Homo sapiens: one gene and its partners. The protein of the gene in region 3 interacts with the protein of the main gene of each other region in a pairwise test. Each region holds a gene or a part of one and is shown on either strand. Other genes may lie near its edges.

What was found. The genes of interacting proteins can lie anywhere in the genome.
Region 1: the proteins of QSOX1 (region 3) and CCR6 interact in a two-hybrid assay, tested with the Homo sapiens proteins (one large-scale study listed by BioGRID and IntAct).
Region 2: the proteins of QSOX1 (region 3) and BEGAIN interact in a two-hybrid assay, tested with the Homo sapiens proteins (one large-scale study listed by BioGRID and IntAct).

What each region holds. Positions count from the first base shown.
Region 1 is NC_000006.12:167,129,579-167,133,110, forward strand, and holds part of CCR6 (C-C chemokine receptor type 6), read left to right. Parts: intron 1-3,532. UniProt on the Homo sapiens protein: Receptor for the C-C type chemokine CCL20. Binds to CCL20 and subsequently transduces a signal by increasing the intracellular calcium ion levels.
Region 2 is NC_000014.9:100,580,903-100,584,434, reverse strand, and holds part of BEGAIN (brain-enriched guanylate kinase-associated protein), read left to right. Parts: intron 1-3,532. UniProt on the Homo sapiens protein: May sustain the structure of the postsynaptic density (PSD).
Region 3 is NC_000001.11:180,199,841-180,202,203, forward strand, and holds part of QSOX1 (sulfhydryl oxidase 1 isoform a precursor), read left to right. Parts: 3' UTR 1-2,363. UniProt on the Homo sapiens protein: Catalyzes the oxidation of sulfhydryl groups in peptide and protein thiols to disulfides with the reduction of oxygen to hydrogen peroxide. Plays a role in disulfide bond formation in a variety of extracellular proteins.

The DNA of each region.
Region 1 (3,532 bases), on a different chromosome or scaffold from region 3:
ATTCCCTGAATATTTTTGAAATGCTTTTTTTAAAAAAGAGTAGAGAGGTGCCAAACAGGAATCAAGAAATTCTGCTTTCTCTTGTCTTCAGAACATGTGATAAAGCTCAGTCAATGAGATATGCCTTCCTGGTGAAGGAGATACTCAGGGGATGAGACATGATGAGTCTCTCATTTGGTGTCATGCCATAGTGTGCCCGCCCTACAGGGTACCCCGGGTCCTGTGAGAGGCTAACATTCAGGTGGGGGGTGACAATGAGTTACTGAGACAGCAACAATCGACACTTTACTTGAGGCAGCTGAATATTGGAAAAGAAGCCTCTTAACTGCAAAACCGAATTGAGTCAAATGACATTTCTAAAGTGTGTCATTAGATGACTTTTTCTTAGAGCCCCTGAAACTCCTCCTCCAAAGAACAGTGTGTCCTACAGAAGCTCTAGAAGTATTCCTCTGCCCACTTGTTTGGGAAATATCTAAATTCCAAAGACAAGAAAATTACACTTTAAGAATCAGTTGAGCTGAATGTATTTTACATGTGATTTAATGACATCAAAGTGAGATCTGGTGAGAATGGTGGTCATAGGGACCACGTGTGAGATAGGAAGTGCTGAACCTCAAAGAGACAGTGTGAGATGTGTTGCAGGTGGCTGCTTTGCAAGGGTAGGTTCACTGGTTCACCAAGAACTGGACACAGGGCTCAGCACATTTCCCTGCATCTCTCATCTGCCACTCGTAGATAACAGGGTGTCTTATTCTCAGTTCATTAAAGAAGGAACAGAAATATCTACTAAAAAACTTCTTAGTGTCTTCACATCAACATTTTCTTAATAGAAAATCTGCAGCCTGTTTCTCCAAGGAGCTGGTGACTGCTGCCTGAGATCTGAGATGATAGAGCAAGTTGTGAACAGGATTCTTTACACGTTGAGGTGATACCCACGCCAATCTGTCACCAAAACAGTTTCCTTAAAACAATTCACACAGTTTTTCCTGTGAAAACAGTGGCTTGGGGAAGGCCGAATCATTTTCAATGACTGTGGCTGGCATACAGGTGAACCTGACAACCACCGTTTTTATGGAGAATCCTGATTCTTAACCACAGTGACATTAAATTTGTCATTATCTAGAATTGTACATTGTTTATACCTAACACGTGCAAAACACCATCCTAAGAGACATGGAATTTATCAATTTTGGTTCATTGACTTATTCTGACATGAGAATAAATGAAAGGAAATTAAAGTAGTGTCTTATGAACAGGACGGAGTAGGCCAGCTTCTCATAGCTCTGCCGGGAACTTCCTGCCCTGTGGCCTGTGTATCTGGTTCCCTCTGGGCCTCCTTCTCTCAGGGACCCCACCCTCTGGGCCCCCCTCCCTCCGGGACTCCTCCCTCTGGGACCACCCTCCCTCTGGACCCCCTCCCTTTGGGACCCCTCCTTCTGGGACCCCCATCCCTCTGGACCCCTTCTCTCTGGGCCCCCTCCCAACTCCTTCTGCCGACAGGGATCCATCACACAGGCGCCCCAGTGCTGGCCTTCTGTTCACCAAGAGTTACTCACTTTCTGGGGTGCATCTCGTGATGACTGCTAGCATGGAACCGTTATATAATTACTTGTTTACCTGGCAGCCTTTTGAAGCTCAAGTACGCGTTGAGTCATCGCTGCACTTCAGTGCCTCTCCTCCGTAGACAGTTCATAAACATTTGTTGAACTGAGTTCAACTTAAATTCAGAAAATACTGTGTGTCACGGTGCAGTTAAACAAATGCTTACCTTAAATGGGGGCCCGTTGGGCATCGAGTGCACGGCGTGCCGGGCCGTCCCTCCCTTTTTGGCCCCCGCTGCTCTTCCCATCGTCATCAACTCAGCCTCCACGTGATGGGGAGGTCACTCCCTCCCATCCGGTCCCAGCCCCACTCACCTGGGAACCCGTGCCGCTGGCCCCACCTTGGCCTAGCATCCGTCCAACCCTGCAGCGACCGCTCCCCACAGCCCCTGCTCCCTTGTTCTCCAGAGCCGCGCCCCTGCTGCAGGCCTCCCCCTCGCTGTCCCCAAGCCCCTGCCTTCCACCCACACTGCCCACTCCTTCCCACCGTCCCCGCCTCTGTCCTTATGGAGTCCTCAAAAGCTCTTCTTGCCCCAGAACCTCCCATTACCCCTCAGTGCTCAGCGGCAGATCCTTGCTGTGACTGTTTATGGCACTAAGTGTCTGTTCCAACACATTTGCGCGGAAGAGTACGCAGGTACTTTTAAATTAACTTTATTGAGGCTAATTTATATGCAATAAATGTCACCGATTGAAGGGTACAATTCAACAGGTCTTGACAAGGGCACCCAGCCATGTGCCACCCCCACAATCAGGATAGAGGACATTTCTGCCACCACAAAAGCCCCTTGTGTCGCCCAACCCCAGCCAATCCCTTCTTCCCGTCCTGATGACAATCCCTGATTTCATTCCTGCCACTGTTATTTTGCCTTTTCTAGAAATGTTAGGGGTGGAATGGTGCAGTGCATGGTCTCTTCTGCCTGGATTTCTTACCGAGCGAAGGTTTTGAGTCACCCCCGTTGGAGCATGCATTAGTCGCCCGTTCCTTTTCATGGTTGAGTAGTATATGCTGTTGCATGGATACACTTCAACTCGGGTATCTGCTCACCAGTTCACAGACATTTGGGTCTTTTTCAGTTTGGGACGGTTAAGAATAAACCTGCTGGGAATGTTCCAGTGTTAATCCTCCCATGTCTCTTGGGTAGACATGTAGGAGTCGGTTGCAGGTTCCCATGGTGGATGCATGTTCAGCTGTGCAAGAAAGGACCCCACTGTCTCCTTGGAGTGGCTGTGTGATCTTGCAGTCCCACCAACAAAGTGTGAGAGCCCCAGATGCACCATGTCCTCTCCCAGCTTCCAGCCCCCTGTTTAATCTTAGTCCTTCCAGTGGGATCTCTGTGTGTGTGTCTGTGTGTGTGTGTGTATGTGTGTGTGTGTTTTGGACGGAGTCTCTCTCTGTCACCCAGGCTGGACTGCAGTGGCGTAATCTCAGCTCATTGCAACCTCCGCCTCCCGGGTTCAACTGATTCTCCTGCCTCAGCCCCCCAAGTAGCTGGGATTACAGGAGCACGCCATCACGCCTGGCTAATTTTTGTATTTTTAGTAAAGATGGGGTTTCACCATGTTGGCCAGGATGGTCTCGAACTCCTGGACTTAAGTGGTCCGTCTGCCTCGGCCTCCCAAATTGCTGGGATTACAGGCCTGAGCCACTGTTCCCAGCCTTCATTGTGGTTTTAATTTGCATTTTCCTCATGATTAATGGCATTGAGCGTCTTTTTTGTGTGTGTATTTGCCATCCATGTATTTTCCTTGGTGAATTGCCTGTTCACATTTCCCCCTGTTTCTTATTGTTTATGTTTTTGATAGGGAGTTGTAAAAATTATTTGTATATTCTGGATATAACCTATTATCAGATATAAGCTTTAACATACTTTTTTCTATTCAATATATATATGTTTCACTTTCTTGAGTGTCTTTCAAAGAGCAGAAGT
Region 2 (3,532 bases), on a different chromosome or scaffold from region 3:
TGGCCAGTACGGCAGGAGTCAGGAGCTGCTGGGGCTCTTCTCTCCCCTCTAGCCAGGAAGGGAACTCAAAAGTGGCCCTTGCCTCAGCAGGCCTTGAGTCTGGAGGACAGTACAGCAGCCTCTGTGGTCTGCCTGGGGTGGGGATCAGCCAGGGCCCAGCTCTGAGCCAAGCAGGGGAATTGCAGTCATTGGTTCAATCAGCAAGCCCTGAGCCCAAGTCAGGGATGGAGATGGGTCAGGCCTGGGCTTTGCCTGGGGAAGCCAGACATGGAAGCCTGGTCATCCCACAGTGGGTGCATGCTGGGATTAAGAGGTGCATGAGGTGGAGAAGCAACGCAGGCATGCTGAAGGGGATGCATGGGTGGATGATACTGTATGGAAGGGAAGCACTAGCAGGATAGAGCAGCGGATGGATGGGTAGAAACCTAGAGGGATAGGCTGGGCGCAGCGGCTCACGCCTGTAATCCCAGCACTTTGGGAGGCCAAGGTGAGTGGACCACCTGAGGTCAGGAGTTCAAGACCAGCCTGACCAATATGGTGAAACCCCGTCTCTATAAAAATACAAAAAAAATTAGGTGGGTGTGGTGGTGTGCACCTGTAGTTCCAGCCATTTGGGAGGCTGAGACAGGAGAATTGCTTGAACCCAGGAGGCAGAGGTGAGGTTGCAGTGAGCCGAGATCGTGCCACTACACTCCAGCCCCTGGGCAACAGAGTGAGACTCCATCAAAAAAAAAAAAAAAAAGGAAGAAAAACGAAAGAGAGAGAGAGAAAGAAAGAAAAAAAGAAAAGAAAGAAAGAAAGAGAGAAAGAGGGATAGATGGACGGGAGGAGAGGTTGATGGATGTAAGTAGCAAGATAGGGATGGGTGGGTGGACAGATGGAAAAGTTGATATGGATACAGGACTGGATTGATAGAACAAAATATCAATGGATGATACATGGGTGGAGGGAGGGAGACTTCTGATACACAAGGCAAGATTGGTAGATGAATGGATGGAAGGATCTTTGGATGGATGGATGAAGGAATGGATACATAAATGGATACAGGTAGTGCCTGGATGTTGGGATGGGTGGATGAATACTTGAATACATGTCCATGAATGATGGACAGAGGAATGAATGGACACTGGAAGAGTGAGTGCATGGATAGGTGATGAGTGTATATTGACGGATGTGTGGATAGAGGCCTGAGAAGGCAGCTCAGTGCACAAATGGATACAAAGCAATGGATGCATGGATACGAGACACAAGTAACAGAGGAATGGACAGACATGGAGGGATGGGCAGGCGGACAGATGGAGACGGGAGTGAGAGGACCAGTGAACAGATGAGTGCCCATCAGCGGGTGAGGGACACAGAGACAGAAGGATGTGTTGGTGCGTGGATGGCACCTGTAAATGGGTGAGCGGTCACAGGGGTGGATGGTGAAGGACGGTTGGTTGAATGGGTGAAGCTTCAGGTCACTCATGCCTTGATTTCCCAGATGCCAGTGTTTTGCTCACAGACCCCCATGTCCCTCTGCTTCAGAGACATATACTACGCAGGCGCAGGGTCAGGAGGGGGCTGATCAGACAGGGAGACTTAACCCCACCTTGACTTTGGTGGGAGAAAAGCCAACCCAAACTAACAGCTATTTGGCCTTTCCAGGCCCGCTTTGCCCTGGAAGACCCACTCAGGAAATAAGGAAGAAGCAGTGAGACCTCTTCGAAAGGTCAGCGGCCAGCCGGGGTTCCTACAGGGGCGTCCTTGCCCAGGGATCTCCCTGGAAGACCTGGACAGCTGTGTACATGTCCTATCTGAGGAAGAGAACTGGGGCACCTGTGTTGGGTGCTGGGGACTGGGAGACATCAAGACCATGGCTGCCCTTGGAGATTCTGAGGCCAGCGTGGAAAATCCAGGGACAGCGGGGCAGGTGATTAGGAGCACAAGTGTGCGGATTCCCAGAGCCTCAGTGTCCTCAACTGCAAAAGGGGAATAATAATAGACACTTCTGACTGGGCGCGGTGGCTCACGCCTGTAATCCCAGCACTTTGGGAGGCCGAGGTGGGCCGATCACGAGGTCAGGAGATCAAGACCATCCCGGCCAACATGGAGAAACCCCATCTCTACTAAAAATACAAAAATTAGCTGGGCATGGTGGTGCGTGCCTGTAATCCCAGCTACTTGGGAGGCTGAGGCAGGAGAATCGCTTAAACCGGGGAGTCAGAGGTTGCAGTGAGCCGAGATCGCGCCACTGCACTCTAGCCTGGCAGCAGAGCGAGACCTGTCTCAAAAACAAAAGAGAAAAAAGAAAGAAAGGAAAAAAAATAAACTTCTGTGCTGGGACGAGGGGAAGGTTGGTGAAGGTGACCACACCTCTGCTGGCCTATGCTGCGGCCCCTGGCGCATGCCCGCACCATGGGGGTTTACCCGAGACCCCTCAGAGCCCAGTTTCCTCCTCCGTGAAGCGGGGTAGCTGCTCCTAGCTTTCAGGCCTGCTGTAAGAATGAAGCGAGGTGACGTTTGGCACTGTCAGCAGAAGCCCGGCATGCCTGCCCACTCGGCAGGGTCCTCCCAACATCCTGTGGCCTGGTCTTCCTGCTCCAATCCCAGCAGACAGTGGGCAGCCTCATGCCCCTTCTGTCCGAGCTGGCAGGGGCCAGCTTTCCAACCACAGGGGCAGTGTGTGCCAGGCAGCAGGAGAGGGGCTTGGGCATCTGGAGAGGAAACGGGTGTGAGTGCCTGACCTTTGGGGTTCTGTCCTGGGCCTGACATGCCCAAGCCATGTGACCTCCGACGGGTCACTGCACCTTTCTGAGACCCTGCTTCTTTTAGCAGAAAATAGAGCCTTTGGCTGTCCTGATGCACAGAGGCGGGTGGGGATTTGGGGTGATGACGCATGCACAGCACGGAGCTTGGCACGCAGGATGGGCTTGGGAAGCAGGACTGAATCAGATGAGTCAAGAGGCAGGGGCTGCGGTGCCAGGAGCCGGAAGCCCCTCCAGGAGAGGTTGTCCAGGCTGCTGGTAGGTGAGCAGGTCCAGGCCGTGAGCCCACGGTAGCCGGCAGCATCCTTAGAGCCTCAGGCCCAGGCGCCTGAGAGCCAGCAGGTTGTTATGACAACGGAAACTTGCCTGATGCAGCCTGAAACTCTGGAAGCAGCTCAGAGGACTGGTTGGCCAGAGCCCCCAGAACACTCCTGCAACCATGCGTGCTAGTGAAACGGCCACATCAGAGCCCCAGTGCTAATGAGTCCTGAAGTCCCTTGCTCATGCCACTTCCCAGCACTGCCATGGGCTGAGTACTGCCCCATGCCCACCTGACAGATGAGGAGGGGATGTGGCTTGCCCGCAGGCCTGTTGGAGTGTTGGAGAAGGGATTTGAACTTGGATCTGCCAGCCTCCAAGTCTCTTTCCCACTGGTAATAGGGCAGGGGCTGAACGGCTGCTGCTGGGGAAGGGCTGTCCGGGTGTAGAGGGGCGACTGTCGGGGACCATAGGGTGGGAGGAGGACACTGTGGCCTCCCGAGAGCCTGAGATCCCTCCCCTATATT
Region 3 (2,363 bases):
ACTACAGCCCTGAGGGGCTGCTCCATGCGGCATTCTTGGAGGTCCAAGAGGGGCAGCGCCACCTTGGGCCAGGCTCCTCTCCAGCAGCCTTGGTATGGGGTGGGGGTGGGAAGACCCCTGATGCAGCCTGTCCTCTGGGTGTGGGGGTGGAGGAGAGGGCTCCAGGGGACCCAGCCAGCCTTGACCCTGGAGGAAAGTCAGGTGGGCTCAGAGAGAGCCCTCAAATCTGGGCCCTGGGTCAGGGTGGGGTCAAGTCCAGCCTTGAAGAGAATGGACTCTGGAATCTGACGTCTGGGTTTGAATCCAGCTTCCAACACTCACTGGCTGTGTGACTTTGGGCAAGATAACTTATCCCCTTGTCCCCATGTGTCATTGGAGATAAACTACCCACCTACCAGATTGTTGTACCATGCTGGGCAAACACTAAGTGCTTAATAATGGTAGCCCACTGCTCATGTCGTGTCGTCTCCTGTCTTGATACCTGAAAACTCAAGGGGCCCTGTTGTGCTTGGAGGGGGGTGCCGTTCCCACAGGATATTCTGTGAAGGGTGTCCCTGGAGCTGGGCCTCCAGGTGGCAAGCCCCAAGCCACCCCGGCAGGTGCCACTGGCCAGAGTTGAACTGAGGTGTTGAGTGGAAAGTGCCTCCCCACCCCCATCTGCCACAGTAGTATGGATTTCCTTCATGAGATGGGGCTCCTAAAATGCCTGAAATGTGTATGCTGTTGGAGAATTGATGTGTATGATTTATTGAACTTTGCACTCATTTAAATCTCATTTAATCCTCCAACAACGCAAGATGAAGAAGCTGAGGCTTAAAGAGATTAAGAAACATCCTATCCCCTTTACTCCCACCAAAATAAATACATTTGCCCTATTCTCCCAAATGGTGAGAGGTAGATCCAGGACTTGACCCCAGATCCCACCCACTCAACCCTGGAGCTGCAGTCTCTACCCCTTCTAACACATGTGATTCTGTTTCATGTCCTGTTCCATCGGTAGAGTTACACACTTTCCTGAGACTTTATATGGTGGTGCTGCTGGGTGCCAGCCCTTCTTCCCTCCAACAGTGGCAGTAACCACTGTTGTGTGTTGGTGTCAAGGAGTGGGGACACCCTGAAGGAATCCGCCTTTTCTAGAGCTCTCGCTCCATTCCCTACATCGAGGCTGAAGTGCCCTGTCTCGGGTCCTTGTTTTTAGGCCTCGTTTGAAGGAGGGGAAGAAACCAGGTTCGTTGGGCGTGACCTTGGCTCAGCTCGTCTGTGAAATTGGGGCCGCAGACTTAGTTTGCGGGTCCCTGCTAAATTCCTCTCCCTCTTCCTGGGATTCCCATCCATGTATTGCCAGCTACATGTAGAGTGGAGAGGAGAGGTTTTTCCTGCAGGGCCTTCCAGAGAAAGGATTCTTGGCCAGAGGAAATCACAGCCTATAAGATCAATATCCTGATAGAATCCCGGGCCAGGTGTGAGAGGGGAGAGCTCACTCACACCAGCCTGACAGTCTTGGGGCAGAGCGCCCCATAGGCCTCTGCAGCCCCATCACTGCCTCATTCTCCCTCAGGTGCCAAGGAAGCTCCAGGGTGGGCCCAGTATCCTTCCACAGCATCCCTCCTCTTCCCCTTCAACACCCCTTTCACCCCTCCCTCCACCACCTCTGAAAGGTGCTCCTTGGGCAGGGCGATAGGATTCCCACCCCTAGCTTTAAGAACTAAACCAAACTTCAAGAGGAGCAATTTAATCTTCATACCTGACTCCTTGTCCCTCCTCAGGCATGCTGTTGTGCAGGACAGAGCCCTGGCTTCTCCTGGATGTCACACCTGGCCTGTCTCTGACCCTTGCTTTCCCTTTCTCTGCTGCCCTCAAGGGTCATTCACACCCAAGAGGGTAAGAAGCTGCCCTCTCATCCCTTCCTCTCCCACCCTGGGCCTCTGCCCTCTGCCTGGCCCCAGCAGCACAGTCTTCTCCATAGAGAGGGGCTGGGCCATGGGACCCCAGTTCCTGGGGTCTCGGTGACACAGTTCACTGTTTGCTGCAGAGGAGGCCCCACTCGCAGCCTTGGCCTCTGCCCTGCAGAAGAATTCCCTGTAACTCACTCACCAATGGCCGTGGGAGCCAGTGGCCTCGGCGAGGGTCAGTTGGACTGCATAGCTGCCGGCTGAGTCTCTCTGGCCACCCTCACTGGCCCCATCACTCCAGGTTGCACTGCTGCCCAGGGGGTTTGTGCCAGGCCTGGGTCACAGTGGAAGAGAGTCTGGAAATCACAAGGCAGAGGAGGAGACCTTTGCCAATGTGAGAGAACAAAGTTAAGGGGCAGTCCATGGGGGCATTGACCTTACTTAGGTGAGGAGGACTCAGGGAACATCTAC